Linked DNA regions of Homo sapiens: regions 2, 3 and 4 are each linked to region 1. Evidence: fine-mapped expression QTL. A gene starts in region 1. Each other region holds a variant in brackets. All regions are shown on one strand. Distances are from middle to middle.

Region 1 (5,150 bases):
TACACAGGCACACACAGGCGAGCACGCTGCCTCCCACTCTGGGTGATTATATATGTACATAAAATATTGATTAGAATGGGTAATGGAGTCACCTACAGGATTGGCTACAGGAAAATGAAAATGAAGGAGAGCAAGGTAGGAAGGTACGTATGTTTCTCTCTGTGTGTGTTCATTTCTCACCTGGGAAAGTGAGAATGATTCTACAGCATTAACAAATGCTCTCTATGTGTTAGAAGCAAAAGGGAGGACCAGAGAGTTCCTCCTCCCTCAACTCTAGTCCCTGTGCCCTTGGGTTTTCTCAAGTCTGGGAATGTCAGCCAATCCACAGGGGTCAAAACAGTGAGCAGAGCATACACGAACCCACTTACTGTATGTTCCCTGGGAAATGCCGGCACTATAATGAATGGCTTTGTCCTACTATCCTTCTACCAAACCAAAGAATCCAGTCCCCTGCTCTGTTACTTTACTACCCATGGCTCTAAAGCTGTGTCACAAAGCCATGGGGTAGAGGTCAGAAAGATGTCTCCCCAGACACCAGCCCCAGACCTCCACAAGCTCGTCCTTGAAATGATGCCCCTCTGCGCCACAGCACATGCAGACCCTCCCTAGGCGGCACATATATGTATAAGAGGCCAGCTCATCAATGCCTGGGCTGCTGCCCAGTGGGTCCTGGGCTTTGAGAAATGACATCTGACAGGGGTGCTCAATTCCTCGGTGGAGACAGCAGGTATATTTTTGGCTTTTCCTGTGCCCCATGGAGGGACAAGCTAATTCTTTGCAAAAAAAAACCGGAAAGGGTTGGGGATCTAAACCTCTGTCAGGCTTAGTTTATAAATGATTTCTATCTCAAACCTTTCCCAGACCCCCAGGACCTCAGCTCCCTGACTTCCTTCTGCTGCTTCCCTGACATTGCCTTTTTGCCCATATTTCTCCTCAAACTCCAGTCAGGGCTGCCGTCAACTCGATGAATTACCCAGCTGTTAAAGCCTCCATCTCACTCCTTGCTTTCCTGGTAAGCATAATCAAAGAATGTACTTCCTTCATACGAATTTTCATATTTATTGACTATGACTTGAGCCAGGGACAAATACATAAGTATTTCGTGCTCAACTAAAGAAGTCACCTCTGGAGAGAGGGAGCCTTAATAATTTAAATATCCAATATTTGTCATACTTGATCATTTTATGTAAGGAAATGCTCCACAAGCACCAAATACTGTCCACAGCCTCACTAACCTCAGGTGCTCCCACCCCATCCCCACCCCAGCTAGAATCTAACCTTTAAAAGGAATGAAAGCCACTTTTCAAGCTGATGGAAATCGGAATCCATTATTATTAAGGATTCCTCTCCCAGACCAGCGCCTTCTGCCGACATTCTGGTGGCATCTAAAAGGCCCTCTGCCCCAGGGTGGAGTGGGGAAAATCCCCAAACTAGAAGCAGGAACAGTCTGGTCAACAACACAAGCCATGCTGTGGACAGCTGCCCTCTCTCTCAAGCGGGGTGCACCGTGGTGGAGGTGCTCCATGCAGCCAGGAGAGGGGTTAGGTACTTCCTGGGACCCCACATGATCCAGAGTATTTATTTTAGAGATGTAGTCGTGGTTCTTGGGGGGAGGGGGAGAGCGAGTGGTACACAAATGAAAGCACGGTGGAACTGGAGAAACGCTGACTTGGAGAATTTAGTTTGCGTCAGAAAAAAAAGAGGAAGACGAGCACAAAGTTAAGCAGGAAAGCTGTCCGTAAGAACCTAGAGTTTTATGTATTATTATTATTAAGCCTTCCGAGGGACCACTTTGCACGCGCACACAACCTGCCTCCGGGACACCCGCCGGGGGCGCCGTGGGGTGCGCAGCGCCCAAGGGGAGACCCGGGCAGGTACCCGAGCAGGTGGAGCGGCGACCGTGGAGGGTGTCGGGAGGGAAACCGTAGGTGGATAGAGTGGGATCCCCGAGAGCCCGGACATGACACGCGGGTTGACCACCCGCTGCTTAGGCGATCAGTTCACTTTCCCACTCTGCGCTCTTGGCGCGCTGCCCCGGGGCTGGAGACCCGCGGTTTCTGAGAGTCGCTTCTCGCGGCGCCGGCTGCCGCCCGCGCCCACGCCGCTCGGATAACCCCAGGTTCTGGCACCGCGAGCGCAAAGCCGCCTCGGAGCAGGGAAATGGTGCCCTTCTGTTCCGCTGGTCACAGCCTCCCCCAAAGCCGAGAACGAACTTTGCCTACGACGCAGCGCTGGGCCCGCATCCCCCGGGCGCCCTGGATCCGCCGCGCCACGTGCGCACCCTCGGGGCGCCCCACGGAGACCGCGAGGCGAGAGCGGCACTGGCCGCCTGCAGTTTCCAAACCGCCGCGGCACGTTCGATTTTCTCTCTCTTGCCGGGATCATTTTTGGTCCCCAGGATGGAAATAATAAAACAAAGCGCCCGCGGGAAAGGCTTTCTCTGACGGGACAGGACATCCTTGCAACCACATCCCTGCACCTGTTCTGGGCTTCTGCCTCCCTTCTTGCTCCATTCCACAAAAACTCAAATATTTTCTCACCCCGGAGCAAGATCAGAGAGGAGAGAGAAAGGGAGAAAGTGCATGAGAAAGCGCCACTCTTGCCTGAAAGTGTGGATTTGTAAAAGGGGGTGCGGGAAAAAGTTAGAGGAGGGTTTATGCCCTAGAAAGAAACCCAGAAGTGTGCGGCTTTTCCCCTCCTTCGTCCCCCAAGTGCCCCCCCGAAGTCCCTTCCACTTTTACACAAGAATGTGCAGAAAAGGAACTGCGATCCCCAGGACAGAGACTGCCAGACGGGCAGAAGGACAGACAGACCGAGAAGCAGGGCACCTACTGGTTGTGGTAGCCGAGGGGGTCCGGGATGCAGAGTTCGGACACGTCCATCAGTCCCGTTTTAGCATTCCCAGTTGGTAGAGAAAGACGGCGGGGAAATCACGCGGAAGAGCGAGTGAAGGGCACGGGCAAGGTGCGAGCCCGGGCAGGGCACAGTGAGCGCGAGAACGCAGAGTGGGAGGAGGCGGCCGCGGCGGGGGAGAGGGAGGCAGAGAGCCGTGCGCGCACAGCCCAGCTCTCCACTCATCCGCACGCTCCGGAGAGAGCGGGCAGAGGGGATGCGAAGCCGTGGAGGAGGCTGGGGCACAAGAGACTTGGAGCCCACTAACCCTACTGTAGCTTTAAGGCTGGGAGACTGATGTATAGTTTGGCTCCTATTGGCTATCTCTCAGGGGCTGGACTTAAAGTGACAGAATCAAGCTGGGGTGGGGGGAGGGGGTGAGACAGAGAGACTTCATGGAATGAGACGCTCAGCGCGCGAGGTCCCCACCTCCTGAGCAGTAGGAGTACTGGGTGTTAGAGCCCTAAGGCCTGCCTTCTCGCAGTTAAAGGGGGGTGGGGGGGAATGTCCAACCGCCAGGTGGGTCTGGGGTGGGGGGAGATTTATTGCTTACATACCCCCCGGGCCACCCCTATCCCATCTTTTAACTGGCAGGTCTAGCAAACTCACCTCTCAGCCTTTCTGGAATGGATCTGTTTTCCAAATTAAAAATGAGTCACATTTCTCCACCCACGCACCAAAGAGAAGAGGCAGCCTCAAACCCTGCGCTGTGTGCGCAAAAGTGCAAAGGGTCAGGCCAGCAGGTGAGGCACAGCAAGAAGGCAGGAGAGAAACAGATTCCCTTCCCAGTTCTCATCACCTGGGCCAGTCAGTTCTGCACCACTCTCATATGGCTAGATGCAGGGTGCGCATCTATAAAACGTTCTCTCAATGTATGAAGTGATGCTCTAGTCATTGGCAGCTCTCTGAAATGTACCCAGGACACAGACATGAGCAAATAAATTCCTGTCTGCTTAGGAAAATACAATCGTGGTGAAAATGATCAACTTACCCGCCACATCCACTCCAAGGCACAAGTACACACTTTGAAATACACACCTGAATCCCCAGCTACAAACGCACCTGCATCCCCGTCCGCTGCTCCCTCAGTGAACCCGAATATTATGGGATGCCACTGTACCAAAATGAGCTGTAAGTCATGCCCCAGCCCTGCTTCTGGGTTTTTCATCTTTTGAGATGCACCAGCCACAGGGATAATAATCAATTTGATGATTCAAATGAGTGTGGGGAGGGGGGTAGGTATAGAATTATTTAAAAGGGGGGAAAAGCCCTCAGGAGACACCACCACCTTATTCTCCTATATTCTGCAGAAGACAATGAGCAGTAGGGGGGAAGACATAATTTTATCATCAAAATAATGTCTAAATGGAGTGTAACTGCAGGCAATGTTCAAGCACTTCAGGAATAAAGGCAGGGAGGGTTGTGAGAAACCCCAGGAGGGGCCAGCCGCCTGGGCAGGGGCTGGGAGAGTGGGCAGAAGGATCGCAGATGATTTTTGACTTGGATAAATGTGCTCGTGCAGGTTGGGAAACAGAGCTGAGATTTTTCATATGTGCTGAAGTGGAGGAACAAGTGGGATTCTCTGGGCGCAAGGCTCAGGAAGGCATCTCACAGAGAGATGGATGAAGATGTCTCCTCTGTCAGTAGCCCCCCAGCAGCCCCCGATTTTTAAAAATCACATAGGTACTTCATCAGAGACAGAAAGAGGGGTGCAGGGATGCTTCCCTTGAGCCTGGCTTCTATATGACCATCATCTCTCACCAGGACCTCAGTGACTGGTTTTTCGGCATCCTTTCTGCCCTGCTGAAATCCATTCTCCAGGCACACAGCAGCCAGGGAGCGATTTGTAAAATGCACATCCAATGTCCCGTTGTTGCAATTAGGAAAAAGGCCCCAGTCCTTGGCCTCCAAGGAAGGCATCCTATGACAGCTTCCTGCAGGTCCCTCTGTTCCTCTCCACAGCCCCTGCTGCTTTCCCTCTGGGCCCCAGTCTTTACATCTGCCACCTAGAAGGCCCCACCTTCCATATAGTGCCAGAATCTTCTGTGGTTCCTTTGCTTTGGGTAGTTTATCACAGTTTGCAATTGTCTGTGTACTGGCATGAGTGATAATTCCCTCCTCCACCCTTCCCTCACTAGACTGTAAGCTCCATGGGAGTAGGGACCATGTCTCTTTTTGTTCACCAGAGAATCTCTAGCATCTAAAGTTGCCTGATACATAACAGTTGCTTGATGAAGATTTTGCTGAATGAATGGTTA
Region 2 (5,150 bases), 110 kb before region 1:
CCTTTTCTGTGTTAGATCAGGTTCCCTGGGAGCAGAGCCTGAGGCAAGGGTTTAGGTACAGACATTTACGGGGGGCATGTGTTCAGGAGAAAGGAAGTGGGGAGGCAGGAAGCACAGGGAAGGAGAAAGCAAGGCAAAGATGGGACCTCGGCTTCAGCCTGATCCCATGCAGGGCTCTGATCCGAACTTTTGTACCCATGTGGGTCCACCATTGCCTGGTGGTGCCAAGGAAAGGGCCACATAACCCTCTGGGCAAGGCAGAGGAGGGTAGGCCCTGCAAAGGGGTACCTCTGAACTGTTAGCAGCTAGGGGATGGATGCACTAACCCAGTAAAAGGGATCCAAGTGGGTCATCAACAGCACCCCCTGCATGCACCATGAAGCCATGTGCTAGGGCAACCAACTGTCCCAGTTTGCCAGGGACTGACGAGTTTCCTGGGATATGGGACTTTCAGTAAAAGCAGGACAGTATTGAGCAAACCAGTTGGTTACCCTGTGTGTACTGTCTGCATCTGGGAGCCAGTTCTCCCTTTTCCATATGCTAATAACACTTTGTATCCTCTATCATTAATAGTAATGATAATAATTAATATTTATTGAACATTTCCTCTAGGCCAGGCACCAGGCTGAGTGCTTTATTGTCAGTCAATCTTTAATACTCACAAAAGCACTTGGGGCTGGGCGTGGTGGCTCACACCTGTAATCCCCTCACTTTGGGATGCCAAGGCGGGTGGATCACTTGAGGCCAGGAGTTTGAGACCAGCCTGGGCAACATAGCGAAACCCCGTCTCTACTAAAAATACAAAAATTAGCTGAGTGTGGCGGTGCACGCATGTAGTCCCAGCTACTCGGAAGGCTGAGACACGAGAATCGCTTGAACCCGGGAGGCAGAGGTTGCAGTGAGCCGAGATTGCATCGCTGCACGCCAGCCCAGGCCACAGAGTGAGACTCTGTCTCAAAAAAAAATAAAATAAAATAAAGTGCTTGGAAGAGGTGCTCAGAATATCCCCACTGAACACACAAGGACACTGAGTTACCCAAGGTCATACTGCTAGGAAGTGTCAGAGATAGAATTTGAACTTGGGTCTATCTGACCCAGACCTGGGCAGTTAACTCTGCCACACACTGCTCTGCAACAGAATTATGTGTGTGATTCCTGGCATGTGTTCTCTTTAGGGAGGGTACCCTGTATTTATCCTTCTCCTGCAGCCCCCTGGCACCCAGCACCATTCCCTGAATAGTGTGGAAGCTCTCTAAGTGTGGATGTTGGTTACATTCAAGTTCACTTACTGGCATTACCCAACGCCTGCCTCTCTCCTCAGATAATCTAGCCAGAAGTTGGTGGATGCTAATGAAATGGAGTGAGTCCTCCTTTGTAACTCCAGCTTAAACCACTCAGTTGGGAAGGTTTTATCCTCCTGTGTTCAAGAAATTTGACTGAAAGATTCAAGGAGTGGGTATAGGTTCAGGTTGATTTTGGAATCAGAGGACCTTGGTTTGACTCTTAACTCTGACACTTTTTAACTGTGTGACCCTGGGTGATTTTCTTTACTTTTTCAGGTCTCAGTTTCCACATCTGTAAAATGGGGTTGCAACAATAAGAATTTTACTCTTGGGTTGTTTGTAAGAATTCAATAAACTCCTAGCTAATTTAATAAGTTGACGCTGAGCGTGGTGGCTCATACCTGTAGTGCCAACACTTTGGGAGGCTGAGGTGAGAGGATTGCTTGAGCCCAGGAGTTTGGGACCAACCTGGGCAACATAGTGAGACCCTATCTCCATAAAAAATAGAAATAAGAATTGGCCGGAATAATGGCACATGCCTGTAGTTCCAGCTACTCAGGAGGCTGAGGTGGGAGGATGGCTTGAGCCCAAAAGTTTGAGACTGCAGTGAGCTAGGATCAAGCCACAGCACTCCTACCTGGGCGACAGAACAAGACCCCGTCTATAATAAACAAATAAATAAATAATTGAGTGCTTTTTATGTGCCAAGCATGTTGCAAGCAATATAATTATGTATAAAGAAATCCTGTCAATAGCCTTGTAGAGTAGGGACTGTTTGGCTGCCCTCCTTTTACTGATGAAGAAACTGAGGCACAGAGTGAAGCAACTTGCCCAGTTGGTAGACGTGGGATTTGCTCCTTAGCAATGTGGCCTCAGAACCCATGTCCTTAGCCAGTGTGCCAGTCTGGATGTCTGAGGCTTAGGAAATGCTCAGCCAGTGTCAGCCTTCATCACCAGCTTTTTATCTGCAGGCCACCCCTTGGACAATCTTCAGTAATAAAAAGTTTCAGTGTTTTCCTTTCATCTCTATCCATGGCAGCCAGCCCTGCCCACAGGCCCCAGGGATGGGCTCATTAGGCCCATGCAGAGCCCTAGAAGCTCCCCTTCCAGGCCCCGCCGCCGCCCTTACCGGAGTTGGCGAGGGCCAGGGCCTTGAGCGTCACAAACTCCTCCTTCTCCACCTTGAGCTTCTTGTACCTGCGTACCAGCTGCAGGATGGCCCGGTAGAGCTCCAGCAGCCCCGCGAGGCGGGAGTGCTCCTCATCCATGATGTAGTCCTCAGCGTACACCAGCTTGTCGTCATAGGGCAGCGAGCGGTACACGATGCCCAGGATGAGGATTTCCATCCAGGCACTCTGCAGCAGGCTCATCTGGTCCCCCAGGGAGAGGCTTGAGAAGCCTGCAGGAAGAGGGGGCACAGAGGGCAGCAGCAGGTCAGGAGGGCGGACCAGGGGCCTCCCTGGGGCTCGCTGGGGGCAGAGGTTGCAGGGCGTGGCTGGTTGCGGGGTGTCCCTGGCACCCCTGGATCCTGCCCCCAGGCTTTCCCTGTGTAGCGTAAGACTCACTGTCCTCCCCTTGGGGAATGCCTCAGACTTGGAATTCACGGAAAAGACTTACAAAATGAGAGCTCAGTCAATGTTGACAGTTGTTGTTATCATTATGATTGTTAGCTCTATGGTATTTTCCAAACGTCTGTAGAGGCTTTTTGTTTAATTCAATGCATTTGTAGTTAAAGGAGTGACTGAGTACATACTGGAACCAGGAGGCAGCAGTACGTGCTCTCGGCCACTCTGGGGA[G/A]TTTCCAGGGCCCACTCTCTGCTCAAACCAGGGGAGGCTTTGGTATTTGAAAATGACACCTGATCCTTGATGCAGTCTCAGCTGTGCAGAGACCCACGGGCCTGACCAAGAACGAGGACGCAGCTGTTCAAAGCCACAGGGGAAGGCCCCAGTGACCATAGCCTGGGGCTGCTAAGAGATCAAGAGCCCCCGGGGTCAGGGGCACTTTCTCACAGGACAGCCTGCTCTCCCAGGGTCGGAGCCCCTCTTCCCGGGCCATAACTCTCTGCTTAACGATGACCCAGCAGGCCTGTTCCGGGAGCTTGGAATCATGCTAGTTCCCCCCTCCCTGCTATTTGAGGAGGCTGATTCCACAGTGAAAATAAAGTTGGGCATGGAGAAGGCTCCAGAACTGTGACACTGTCTTGCCCAGTGAACTGTGGGGATTGCCTGGGTTGAACCCTGACTCCCGCTTACTAGCTGTAGGCTGAACTTGTGAAAACCATGCAACTTCTCCAAACCTTAGCTTCCTCATCTAGGAAATAGTATAATAGTAGGGTCTACTTCAGAGAGTTGCTGTGAGGTCTAAATGAGACGATGATTCCAGAATATACAAAGTATTTACTGAGCTATTATTACTAATGATGAGATGAAAGTTCTCACTGCAGAACAATGATAATGTACTGGAATTGCATTATACATGCACTTAAATTAGGCAAAGTCAATTAACATCTTGATTTATAGGAGAGTAAGAGAGAGTAAGTAAATAAATAAGTCAGCTGATTTTCAAGCATCTTAACCACCAAACACAAGGCAGTAACTTCACTGGAGATTCAAACAGAAACTCAGTGATTGGTTCTAACACGGACATGCTGGATTTATTCAAAGAAGGAAGGGCATCCACAAAGTTGTTTGCACCATGCACTATGGGTAACTGACATGAAGGGATTTTTTTCAGGGGTAATTTTGCCTAGGAAGGACTTTCTACTTCATTTGCTGACTTAGACCCCATCCTTGGCTGGAAGCCACTTTCTGATGTGGGGTGCTGTGGGGGCGAAAAGAGAAGATGCATGTACAGTGCTGGGCACCTCTCCCGGCGCCATCAGCACTCAACATGCTAGGGTGCTGGTCATGGCTGTGGCTGTTGTTACTAAATATTGTTGTTGTTGTTGGCACACCATTGGCATCACTCACTTCTCCTCTCTGGACTTGCCTGGAGGCCTGGGTGGTCCTGAGCTTCTGGACCACCCAGCTCTTTGGCTTGTGTGGTCTCCCCCATCCATCTGCTGTCCTGTCTCCAAATGCCACTTCTTCCCTGGCTTCCACACAGGGCATGGCAGTTGAACCTTAGGGGTCACTCCTGGAGCTGAAGGTCCCTGACCAGGCAGACCACCCTTACCCTGTGAGCATTCTCCAAGTGAATTATCACAGTTCCCAAGACTGATCTATACAACTTGGGCCTCAGATCACCACTGGCTAATGGAATCCATGGGTGATCAACAAAAGAGCAGGAGTGATTACACCGACTGACACGGGGGAGCTTTGATTGATGCACCTTCTCAGGGGAGAGGCTGTGACAGGGGATCAGGGTGTGTGTGTGTGTGTGTGTGTGTGTGTGTGTGTGGTTGTCCAGATTCCCTGCATGGGAGAGGGTGTGTGGCTGCCTGTGGTGGCCGGGGGAGCTGGGAGGTAATAAAAGATAGATAGAAATGGACATCCAATTTCCCTTATCAGGTCTTTGAGTAGGAGAGAGGCCTTGGGCAACATTAATTAACAGATACCAATCAGCCAGCACCGGAGAGTGTGTTGGGGGGAGTGTTGGACAGCTCTAGGGAGGGGGTCTAAAAGCAGACAGACTGGAGGGGAGATGGAGGAGGAGGGCAGGGGTGAAATTAGCAGACAACTGAATTGGAAGGTGGTGGAGAGAGAGGATGAGGTAAGGACTAGGCTTCTGGAAACGCAGGGGAAAAGTCCCCTGTGCAGTGAATCCTGCAGGTACAATCATTAGGATGTTACTAGAATGCTTTTCTGCCCTTTGAGACATTCAGCAAAAACTTACAGAGCACCTACTAAGTGCCAGGCCTGTGCTAG
Region 3 (5,150 bases), 66 kb after region 1:
CCAGGGAAGAGGCAGTTTTTAGCTAAATGTCCCAACAAAATATTCTTCTGTCTGACCATTAAGGCTCTGAGAACACAGGACTTGCTCAGGAATGCGGGACTCTCTCCCACTGCATTTAATCCTGACACACTGGGCCTGCACAGTGGGCCAGGCAGGCTCCAGTGTGCAGGTTGGGGAGGGGAGGTAGAATTTGTTCTTGTACTAAAAGGCATTTTTAAAAGCCACATTTTTTCTCAAAAGCCATTGAGATCTGAAAGTCCTAGAAGTTCAGCTTTGCCAATAGCAATCTTCTCTGATTTCTGAATGCAATGTCTCAATCACTTCATTCACTTGAGCTTTAATTAACAATAATCCACCAAATCCCACTTCAGCATTATGGTGAAAAAACCTTAGCAGGACATATTTACCAAAATAGAGGCCCTCATAATAGGAAGAATAATAATGCTATATGTATAAGACACTTTAACTCCTAGTTGGCGTTTGTCCCCCTCTGGAGTTCTTAGACTTCACCGTCTATACTAGATCTTAAATAGTGACATTTACCCCCTTGTACGCCATACTCCTTGTTCTGAATTTCTCCACTACTGAATGCGGTCTTACTGGCTGAACATGGGACGTTTGCCTTCTAATTTCTCATTGCTTCCTGATCCCCACTCTCCCGTCCAAAATAATGAATGAATGGATTAAAGATATTAATAACCCTAAACAAAATACAGCTGAAAACATGGAACCAGAAAAAGGAAAGTTAAAGTTTCAGAACAGTCAAAATAAAAATGATATCAAATTGCTTCTCTAAACATACGTGTGTATATCCATATTTATTTAACTTTCATCGAGTTAGATGAAACTAACTGGTTTCATGCTGGTAAAACTATTTTTGTTTGTAATCAATCAAAAATAATACAGGCATATCTGCTTTGTTTAATGCTTTTAAATTGTTGGAAAGATTGTTTCTTTGTAGGATATTGTTCTCCCAAACAAATCAAGGAGTCCTCAGTCATATAGCATATGGTATCCATTGGATAAATAGAAACTCATGGTTAAAAAAAAAAAAAGGTACATTTAAAAAGTTGTACTTAAGTATAAATTAGGCATCATTACTTTTTTTTTTTTTTTTTTCAAAATGTAGGGCTACTTTTCCTTTGTAAATTCTATAAAGCAAATCTTCCCAAGTACAGGATTTCGGGTGAATACTATTCAATATCCAGAAACTAAAGTCCCAAACGTTGCACGGGAAGCTCGTGGCAGGTAAGCCCCGTGGACACAGGACTGTGGCCGGGAAGGCCCCATCTAGAGCCGCCCGAGGTGCACTCAGAGCCGGCACACTATTCGAATTGTCTGAAACAAGCACAGCTTTGACAAGCCTCACGATATTAAGTTTCTTCCTTTGCGAAGGATGCAGAGCAAAGCAGTCAACAGCCCTCCCTCCACACCTGGCTTTGGCCTGGGACTCTTCCTCCCAGTCCCCAGCCAAGTTCCCTTTCAGGATTAAGAAAATACACCAAATGAGGGAGCCAATGACAGCCTGTAAGGCAGGACAAATCCTCAGCTCTCATCGTGACTTCTCAAAGCAAACTTGCTCCGCGGAGGGGAGAGGGAAAATCATTTACTTTAAGGTGCTATAGAAAACTGGTCATCGGGACTGTGGGGAGTCTCCCTGAACCTGGAAGCTCCCAGGTTGAAACCAAAACTTCCAGGAGCTCCCATCATTACCTGTCCTGTGGGCACTGGGTCTTCTTGGGTAACCTTCCCCAGCTTGCCCTACACCGGAGCTGCCAGCAAATAAAAGTTTTCACGCTGGGCGACATCGCTACCCTGCTGAGCTGCATGTAAACTTTCCCTTGCCCTTCTGATGTACTTACTTTTTTCTCAGTGAAAACAAACAAAAATCAAAGGGAACTCACTGCTTCCAAATGAGTTTGTGTCACCGTCCCACCTAGCCATCCAGAGACCCTCTGACCTTCCTGTGACAGTCTAAGAAAGGCAACGTTTTCCTCTCGGCCACACAGGGATGCTTTAGAGTGCGGAAAACCAGGATGAAAGAACAGGCATGGGGAGATATTTTTATCCATTGAGAGAGAGAGAGAGAGAGAGAGAGAGAGAGAGAGAGAGAGAAAGGGGACAGAAAAGGACCCGCAGAGTCTGGGGAGGAGAAAGGGAGAAGTTGGGTTACTCACATGCTTGGGGCTGGCGTGGAGGACGAGGACTGGGCTGGGGTGGAATGTGCGGCCCCTCAGGTGCTTTCAGTTGCTGATAACTCGTTGCTCCGCTCCTCCGGTACCAGCTGACAGTCCCCTGTCTGTGTCTCTTTGTGACTAAGGACACAGTACTCCCAACCTATAAATAGATCCCGACTCCGTGATTGATATAACAGGCAGCTG[A/C]CAAAAAAAAAAAAAAAAAAAAAAAAGTCTCACAACCATAACCAGGTCTTAAACAAAACAGCAAAAAGCTCTAGACTTCCAACTCCACCCAGCCCCATGCAGACTCCACAGCCACTGATGGACGCAGGAAAGTGTGGAAGAAAAATACACCATGAAGGGGAGGAGGAACTGGGGGAGGGCAAGTGAAAAGGGGGGATGTGTAAGACAATGACTTCTCTAGTGGTGTGCGGCCGTCACTTGGGGTCACAGGGGAGCTGGTGACTGATGGTCGGCAGAAAGCAAGGGGAGGAGCCAGGGCAGGAGGTCCTGACCTGGAGAAGGAGAGCCGCCCCCCTCCGGATCCTGAGCCCGTGGCCCTGTCAGGGCCCGAGTCAAAGTCCTGACTTGGGAGCATTCGTCAGCTCAAGTGCTTTCCACGAAAGTTTCCATTCCTCCTGCCAAATTAGGAGGCAGGGAGGGAATTCAGCTTTCCCAGCTCAGGGGCCAGGCAGGCTTCTTGGGGGCCATGCAGAAGGCTCCTGGAGGGTGAGAGAGGAAGTGCAGTTGCCTGGTGAGGCCAGGTCTTTGAAGAGGCCAAGAGATGGCGTTCCCAACAGAAGAACGGCCTGAAGTTGAAAGGCCCTGGGGGTGTTAATGTCTCTGCTTTCTCCAGAAAGATTTAGGACGTCAAGTCGTCTGAAAAGATTTCCTTTTTGGAGAACAAGCCCCGCTCTTTGGGGTACCGGAGGGTCTCTAAGAAGCACTGCCTGTCCCAGTTTCTACAAAGTTGGGGCCGCCTCTCTGGGATAGGCCAGTCCAGCTCTGAAAGCTGAGCCAAGGGGCTGTTTCTGGAAGTTGGAAGAATCATGGTGAAACGGCACAAGTATGGGCTGTTCAACAATTAACCAGGTGAGCATGCATTACCCCAGGGGGCTTCCCATCTGCCATCTGGAGACCCACTTGCTTTGACTACACAGGGTCACCTGTCTTGATTTTCTGGATTTCTTGTGCATGCTAAATGAGGCAGAATTTCAGGTGAGTTTCCCCTTCAAGAGGGGTCATAGGATGAACCCCTTGCTGGTATGGATAAGGGACAGGTACTTCATAATCCCTAAAACTTCCTGATCCCCAATTTTTAAAAGAAATGAAGTTGAACCTCCTCTTCATGTTAGATCTAATCCTTTACTCTCCAGGTTATCAGAAACTATGAGGATGGGGTGGTATCTAAGCTGTTGAAGTCAAAAACCTATTAAACGTGTAGGGCCTCCAATCTTTCCACCAGTAGCCTGCCATTGCAATATGAGCTCCAAGAAGGTAAAGACTATGTGTTTGTCTCATTCATCATCACATCCCCATAATACCTGATCTGTAGCAAGACCCTCCTGAGTATGGATTGATTGACTGACTAATTGAATGAAAGAGTGATACTTAAGATACTGTCATTTGAGCCACTCCTTTGGACTAAGTAAGATACTCTCTAGAAATGTCTGTATCATAAGAGTGTCCCTAGGAAGGCCCAGAACTGGGAGTGAGACTTCAGGCAGATATAGTCAAACTGCTGTATTTTCACTCGCAGTTTTATCTGAGAACCACTGCCCTTCTGAGTACCAGGCCAGTGATGCCAGTGGTCAGCCACCAGGCACTCCTGTCTACTCAGGCCTGGCCACACACAGGGTTCCCTGCAAGTTTAGTTGCTGGAAAAGCAGATAACCCTGCAGAGACAGGGCTCTAGAGAGACTCCCATTCTGATGACTGGGGCTATAGCCACTTACACGCACATTCACCACCAGGCTCCTTCCCAGGGAAAAACCTTTCTCTTCTGATGCAAACTGAGGACTTCCCTCCATGATTTTCTTTCTCCTCCAACTCTTACCGAGCCCTCGCTGATCTCTGGCAGACATCCTGCAGCCCCTCCTAGGGCTTCCACAGCCCCCTAGCACAGCACCCTGTCTGTAGGAAGGGGTCAGTGTTTGGGTTGAACCCAGCCACCCCTCTCCCTAGGAAGCCCCTGTGGCACCTTTGTTTTGGCTTTTTATCTCAAGGTCGACCTCTGTATCATCTCACAGTCTGGTTCTCAACTCTGCCAACTGAACCAAGCCTTGGTGTCTGCCCCCTTGAAGCTGGCCTGGGGGCAGCAGGGGTCTGCTGGGACCAGCTGATAACCAGCGGCATTTCTCTCTGCTCACAGGGGCTCTCTCGAATGGCAGGTCATCATCTTAGGAGACCCCAGGCTTTTGCTTGCAGGAGACTCATCATGGCCTCACTTTCTCATCATAAAACCTCTCCAGCTTCAAGGGCCAGGCCTGCTAGTCCACTCGGAGCAGATGCACATCCGGACACACACCTCTGAGCCTGTCAGATGGGGCTGTTAAGCACAGGCTCTGGATCGGAACTCCCTGGGTTGGAATCTTGCCTCTTCCGCTTGTTATTGGGAAACTCTAGAAAAATTCCTTAGTATGTCTGTGCTTCAGTTTCCTCATCTGCAATGTGGGAATTCTAAGTGTCTATCTCATAGGATTGTCATGAGGACAAAATGACTCAACACAAAAGGATGCTTAGAATAATGCCTGGCCCATCCAGTGTCCTGCCTACCTGAGCCACATCACTCGATCTTGCCTTGGTTCTTCCCAAAAAACGGGAAGCGGCACTGGCAGGGCAAGTACCCCACGGCAAGGCGTGCTCTGGCCACAGAGCTGGCCAGAGGTCAGAGGTCAGGAAGAGAAGACCGCATGGGGACTTTTGGAGTTTTAGTGTGCCAGCCCAAAAGCAGGTGTAGAGAAGAACAGGAAG
Region 4 (5,150 bases), 150 kb after region 1:
GTGATGTTTTCTTCAAGTCATTTGCCCATAATTTCATTGGATCATCTGTTTGTTTTCATTGATTTGTAATACTTTTAAAAATAGATTCTGAATGCAAGTCCTTTGTCAAATATTTGTGTTGCAGGTATAATCTCCTATTTTGTGGCTTGCTTTTTTACTAATGGGGTCTTTTGATAAATAGAACATTTCAACTTTAATATAATCCAATAATTATAGTAATCATTTTCTTTCTCTTTCTAGGTAGTGCTTTTGATATTTTATTTTTTAAATCTTTACCTACTTCAAGTAAATGAAGACACTTTCCTTTTTTTAACCATAATATTTACTTTTTTACACTTTCATCTTTATTATGCAATCTATATGGACTTGGTTTTTTTCAAGTTGTGGAAATAGGGATCAAGATGTATATTACCTGTGAATATCCAACTGAGTCAGCACCATATATTGAACGGGTCATCCCTTCCTTGCTGCACTACATCATTACCTTTGTCCTCAGTTAAGTGACTATGTGTGTGGATCAGCTTCTAGACTCTGTTCTGTTTCACTGTTTTATTTGTTTATTCTTGCACCAATACCACATGGTATTAATTACTGTAACTTTATAAGAAGTCTTGATAGCTAGCAGTGTGTCTTCCAGCTGTGTTCTTTAAACACTCTCTTCTCTATTCTTGGTCTCTAATGTTTCCATGTTTCAGAATCAGCTTAATTTCCCCCAAGAAATCTGCTGTGATTTTGACTGGAATTGCATTAACTCTGTAGACCAGTTGGAAAATAACTGACATCTTTACAATATTGAGGCTTTCAATTCATGAATACAGCAGATCTCTCCATTTATTTAGACCTTCTTTATTTTTCCTCTGTAATGCTTTCCATGTAAAGATTTTTTCTCATCTTTCATTAGATTTATTCTCAGTTTATGTCTTCGATGCTATTGTAAATATTTTTAAATTTCATTTTTGAACTGAATATTGCAGATATATAAAAATATCATTGATTTTTGTAGAGTAAACGTGAATCCAGTAGCCTTGCCAAATTTACTTATTTCTAATAAATTTAATTGACCATAGATTCTTTTGGATGTTCTACATAAACAATCATATGCTTTGCAGTCTGTAACTTCTTTTCCTTGCCTTATTGCAATGGTTAAGATCTCTAGTACAATGTTTAATAGAAATAGTATTAGGAAATATTCCTAATCTCAAGGTGAAAGCTTTTAATATTTCACTATTAACTATGATATTTCCTGTAAGATTTTTACTGATCTTTACCAATTTAAAGATGTTTCCTTCTATTCCTAGTGTGTTAAGTGTTCACTATGAATAAGTATTTGATTTTATCAAATGCTTTTTCTGCATCATTCTATTGAGATATTTTTTCTGCCTTACGATGCTAATGTAGTGAAATACACTAATATTTAAATGGAAACATAATTCGTATATCTTGAAAGTCATCATTTTAAAGAGTACAATTCAGTGGTTTTTAGTATATTCACAAAGTTGTGCAATGATTACCATATAACTCCGGAACATTTTCATCACTGCAGAAAGAAACCTCATACCTACTAGCAGTCCTTCCCCATTCCCCTTTTCCCATTGGCAGCTACTAATCTACTGCCTGTCTGCAATATCTGTCTCTATGGATTTGCCTATTCTGAACATTTCATGTAAGTGGAATATGGCCTTTTCTGTCTGGTGTTTTTCAATTAGCATAATATTCTCAAAGTTAATCCATGTTGCCACATGAATCAGTACTTCAGTCTTTTCATGGCAGAATGATGTTTTATTGTACAGATATACCACATTTTGTTTACCATTCATCAGTTGATAGGTACTTGGGTGGTTTTCACTTTTAGTTTATTGTAAATAAGGCTAAAATGAACATTTGTGTACAAGCTTTTGGGGGTACATAAGTTTTTAACTGTCTAGGAATGGGTGTAAAGTGGCATCTTGTAGTTTCAGTGTTTCTTCAGTGACTAATGATGTTGAGCATCTTTTCGTGTGCTTGTTGGCCATGCCTACATCTTCTCTGGAGAAATGCTTACTCGAGTCTTTTTGCCCATTTTTAAATTGGATTGTTTACCTTTTGGTTGTTGAGTCATAAGAGTTCTTTATATATTCTGGATATCAGACCCTTATCCAATATATGATTTGCAAATATTTTCTCCCATTCTGTGGTCGTCGTTTCATCTTCTTGACAGTGTCTTTTTGAAGCAAAAAATTTTAAATTTTGATAAAGGCTTATTTATCTATTTTTTCTTCAGTTGCTTGTGCATGTGGTGTCATATCTAATAAACCATTACCTCATCCAAGGTCATGAAGATTTATGCATTTGTTTTCTTCTAAATGTTTTCTAGTTTTAGCCCTTATGTGTAGGTCTTTGATATGTTTTTAGTTAATTTTGCATATTGTATAAAGAGGGATCCAACTTCATTATTTCGCATGTGGATATCCAGTTGTCCCAGATAGTTTGTTGAAAATAAATCCAGTTGAATGGGTTGAAAACACTGATTTTGTGATGTTAAGCCAAAATCTTGCATTCCTAAAATAAATAATTCACTGAACTTTACTTTCTAATATTTTCTTTAAGATATTTATAAGTATGTTCATTAGATATAGTGGCCTATAATTTTCCTTTCTTGTAATGAACCTGCCACCCTTTGGTATTAAAATTATGGTAGCCTCAAAGTGAATTGGGAATTATTTTTCTTTTTGTATTATTTCAAACAGTTTGTATAAGACTAGTGTCAATTCTTTAAATGTTTAAAAGAATTTGCTGGTGAAGAAAAAAATCTGGACTGGGGATTTTTTTGTGGGAAAGTTATAGTTACAGATTCAACTTTTTTTTCTTTCTTT[T/C]TTTTTTTTTTTTTGAACACAGTCTCACTCTGTTGCCCAGGCTGGAGTGCAGTGGTGCGATCTCGGCTCACTGCAATCTTCACCTCCTAGGTTCAAGCGATTCTCATGCCTCAGCCTCCTGAGTAGCTAGGATTACAGGAGCATGCCACCACGACCAGCTAATTTTTGTATTTTAGTAGAGATGGGGTCTCACCATGTTGGCCAGGCTGGTCTTGAGCTCCTGACCTTAAGTGATCCACCTGCCTCAGTCTCCCAAAGTGCTGGGATTACAGGCGTGGGCCACTGTGCCCAGCCCAGATTCAACTTCTTAAACAGATATAAACAATTCAAATTTTCTATTTATTCTTTTGGGTTTGTTGTTGTTACAGGGTCTCACTCCGGTTGTCCAGGCTGGAGTGCAGTGGCAGCATCTCAGCTCATTGCAGCCTTGACCTCCCTGGCTCAGGTGATTCCCCCACCTCAGCCTCCTGAGTAGCTGGGATTACAGGTGCACGCCACCACGCTCAGCTAATTATTTGTATTTTTAGTAGAGACGGGGTTTTACATGTTGGCCAGGCTGGTCTTGAACTCCTGGACTTAAATGATCCATCCACCCTGGCCTCCCAAAGAACTAGGATTACAGGCACGAGCCACCATGCCCAGCCTTCTATTTACTCTTGAGCTGGTAAATTGTATTTTCCTAGAAATTCCATTTCATGAGGATTTTCTGATTTGCTGACAGAAAGTTCTTCATATTACATTCTTAGAATATGAAGGTTTGGGGTTTTAAAAAATCCCAGGCTTTTTCTGGGGTTTTATATTGGTAATCTGTGCCTTTTTTCTATTTTTAAAATAGAGTTTAGAGTAGTTTTGGATTCACAGCTAAATTGAGCAGGAGTACAGAGAATTCCCATATACCTTCTTCCCCCACACATGCACAGCCTTCCTCACCAGAGTGATACATTTGTTACAATCAACACATTATCATAAAACAGTTACACATCTTTATCATCCAAAGTCCATAGTTGATACACTAATGTTCACTATTAGTGTTATACATTCTATGGGTTTTGATAAATGTATAATGGCATTTATCCATTATTGTAGTATCATACAGAGTATTTTCACTGCCCTAAAAATCTTCTGTGCTCTGCCTATTCACCTCTCCTTCCCATCTAACCCTTGGCAACAATTCATCTTTTTACTGTCCCCATAATTTTGCCTGTTCATATAGATGATATCATACTGTAGGTAGCCTTTTCAGATTGGCTTCTTTCACTTAGCAATATGCATTTAAATTTCCTCTATTTCTTTTCATGGCTGGATAGATCATTTCTTTTTAGAGTTAAATAATATTCCATTGCCTGCATGTACCAGATTGTTTATCCATTTACCTGCTGAAAGACATCTTGGGCAATTACAAATAAATCTGCTATAAACATCTGTGTGCAGTCTTTCTGTGGACATAGTTTTCAGCTCATTTGGATAAATACCAGGAAGCATCATTGCTAGATTGTATGGTAAGAGCATGCTTAGTTTTGCAAGAAACTGCCAAACCGTCTTTCATCATAGCTGTGCCATTTTTCATGCCCATTAGCTAATTCCCATTAGCGTTCCTGTTGCTCCACATGCTCACCAGCATTTGGTGTTGTCAGTGTTTTGGAAAATCACCATTGTAATAGGTATGTCATGGCATCTCATTATTATTTTATTCTGATGAGCATCTTTTCATATGCTTATTTTCCATCTGTATATCTTCTTTGGTGAGGTGTCTGTTCAGATCTTTTGTCCACTTTTTAATTTAGGGCTTTTTTTTTTTTCTTATTGCTGAGTTTTAAGAGTTCTTTTTACAGTTTGGATAACAGTCCTTTATCAGATGTGTCTTTTGCAAACATTTTATCCCAGCCTGGGGCTTATGTTCTCATTTTTTTGACTTTTTTTTTTTTAAATCAGTCTTGCTAGAGGTTTATCAATATTATTAGTCTTTTCAGAGAACCAATCTCTGGGTTTGTTGCTATCCTTTTTCTACTTTTTGAGATGCGTACTTAGACTGACTTTTAGCCTTTTTTATGCAAGTTTTGATGTCATTTAAAAATTGCCATATAGTTCCAAATATTGTCTAACATCTACTGCAATTTATTTTTGAACTATCAATAATTTAGAATTGTAATGTTTAATTTCTAAATATTTCAGGCTCTGCTGGGGTTTTTAAAAAATTGATTTTTAGAGTAATTTCACTTTGGTCAGAGAACATATTTTAGGTGATTTACCCTTTGGAATTTGTTGGGACTTACTTTAAAGACCAGCATATGATAAATT

Direction of the effects. Positions count from the first base shown, and alleles are read on the strand shown. Sizes are in standard deviations (SD) of each study's normalised expression.
In carriers of allele G in region 2, the expression in lymphoblastoid cells of the gene that starts at base 3,147 in region 1 tends to be lower than with A alone (small effect, 0.31 SD a copy in GEUVADIS).
With allele A in place of C in region 3, the expression in skeletal muscle of the gene that starts at base 3,147 in region 1 is higher (large effect, 1.0 SD a copy in FUSION).
For the expression in prefrontal cortex of the gene that starts at base 3,147 in region 1, C is the high allele of the variant in region 4 and T is the other (moderate effect, 0.42 SD a copy in ROSMAP).

Evidence for each region.
Region 2: its variant is fine-mapped to the expression of ESRRB in lymphoblastoid cells (GEUVADIS, PIP 0.95).
Region 3: its variant is fine-mapped to the expression of ESRRB in skeletal muscle (FUSION, PIP 0.95).
Region 4: its variant is fine-mapped to the expression of ESRRB in prefrontal cortex (ROSMAP, PIP 0.90).

Annotation. Positions count from the first base shown.
Region 1 is chr14:76,374,134-76,379,283 of GRCh38, reverse strand. It overlaps ESRRB (estrogen related receptor beta), which reads right to left and starts at 3,147. Exons shown (of 7, transcript NM_001379180.1): 1 at 2,833-3,147. The coding sequence starts at 2,882.
Region 2 is chr14:76,488,979-76,494,128 of GRCh38, reverse strand. ESRRB (estrogen related receptor beta) reads right to left here. Exons shown (of 7, transcript NM_001379180.1): 6 at 2,413-2,682. Among named protein-coding and RNA genes, the nearest start is that of ESRRB, 120 kb to the right of the region's middle. The variant G/A (reference allele first, on the strand shown) is at 3,081.
Region 3 is chr14:76,307,944-76,313,093 of GRCh38, reverse strand. It overlaps LOC105370575 (a long non-coding RNA gene), which reads left to right and starts at 2,675. Exons shown (of 4, transcript XR_001750833.3): 1 at 2,675-3,269. It also overlaps a transcript of ESRRB not described here. RefSeq lists an enhancer at 2,659-3,272. The variant A/C (reference allele first, on the strand shown) is at 2,382.
Region 4 is chr14:76,220,671-76,225,820 of GRCh38, reverse strand. It overlaps a transcript of GPATCH2L not described here. Among named protein-coding and RNA genes, the nearest start is that of GPATCH2L, 71 kb to the right of the region's middle. The variant T/C (reference allele first, on the strand shown) is at 2,853.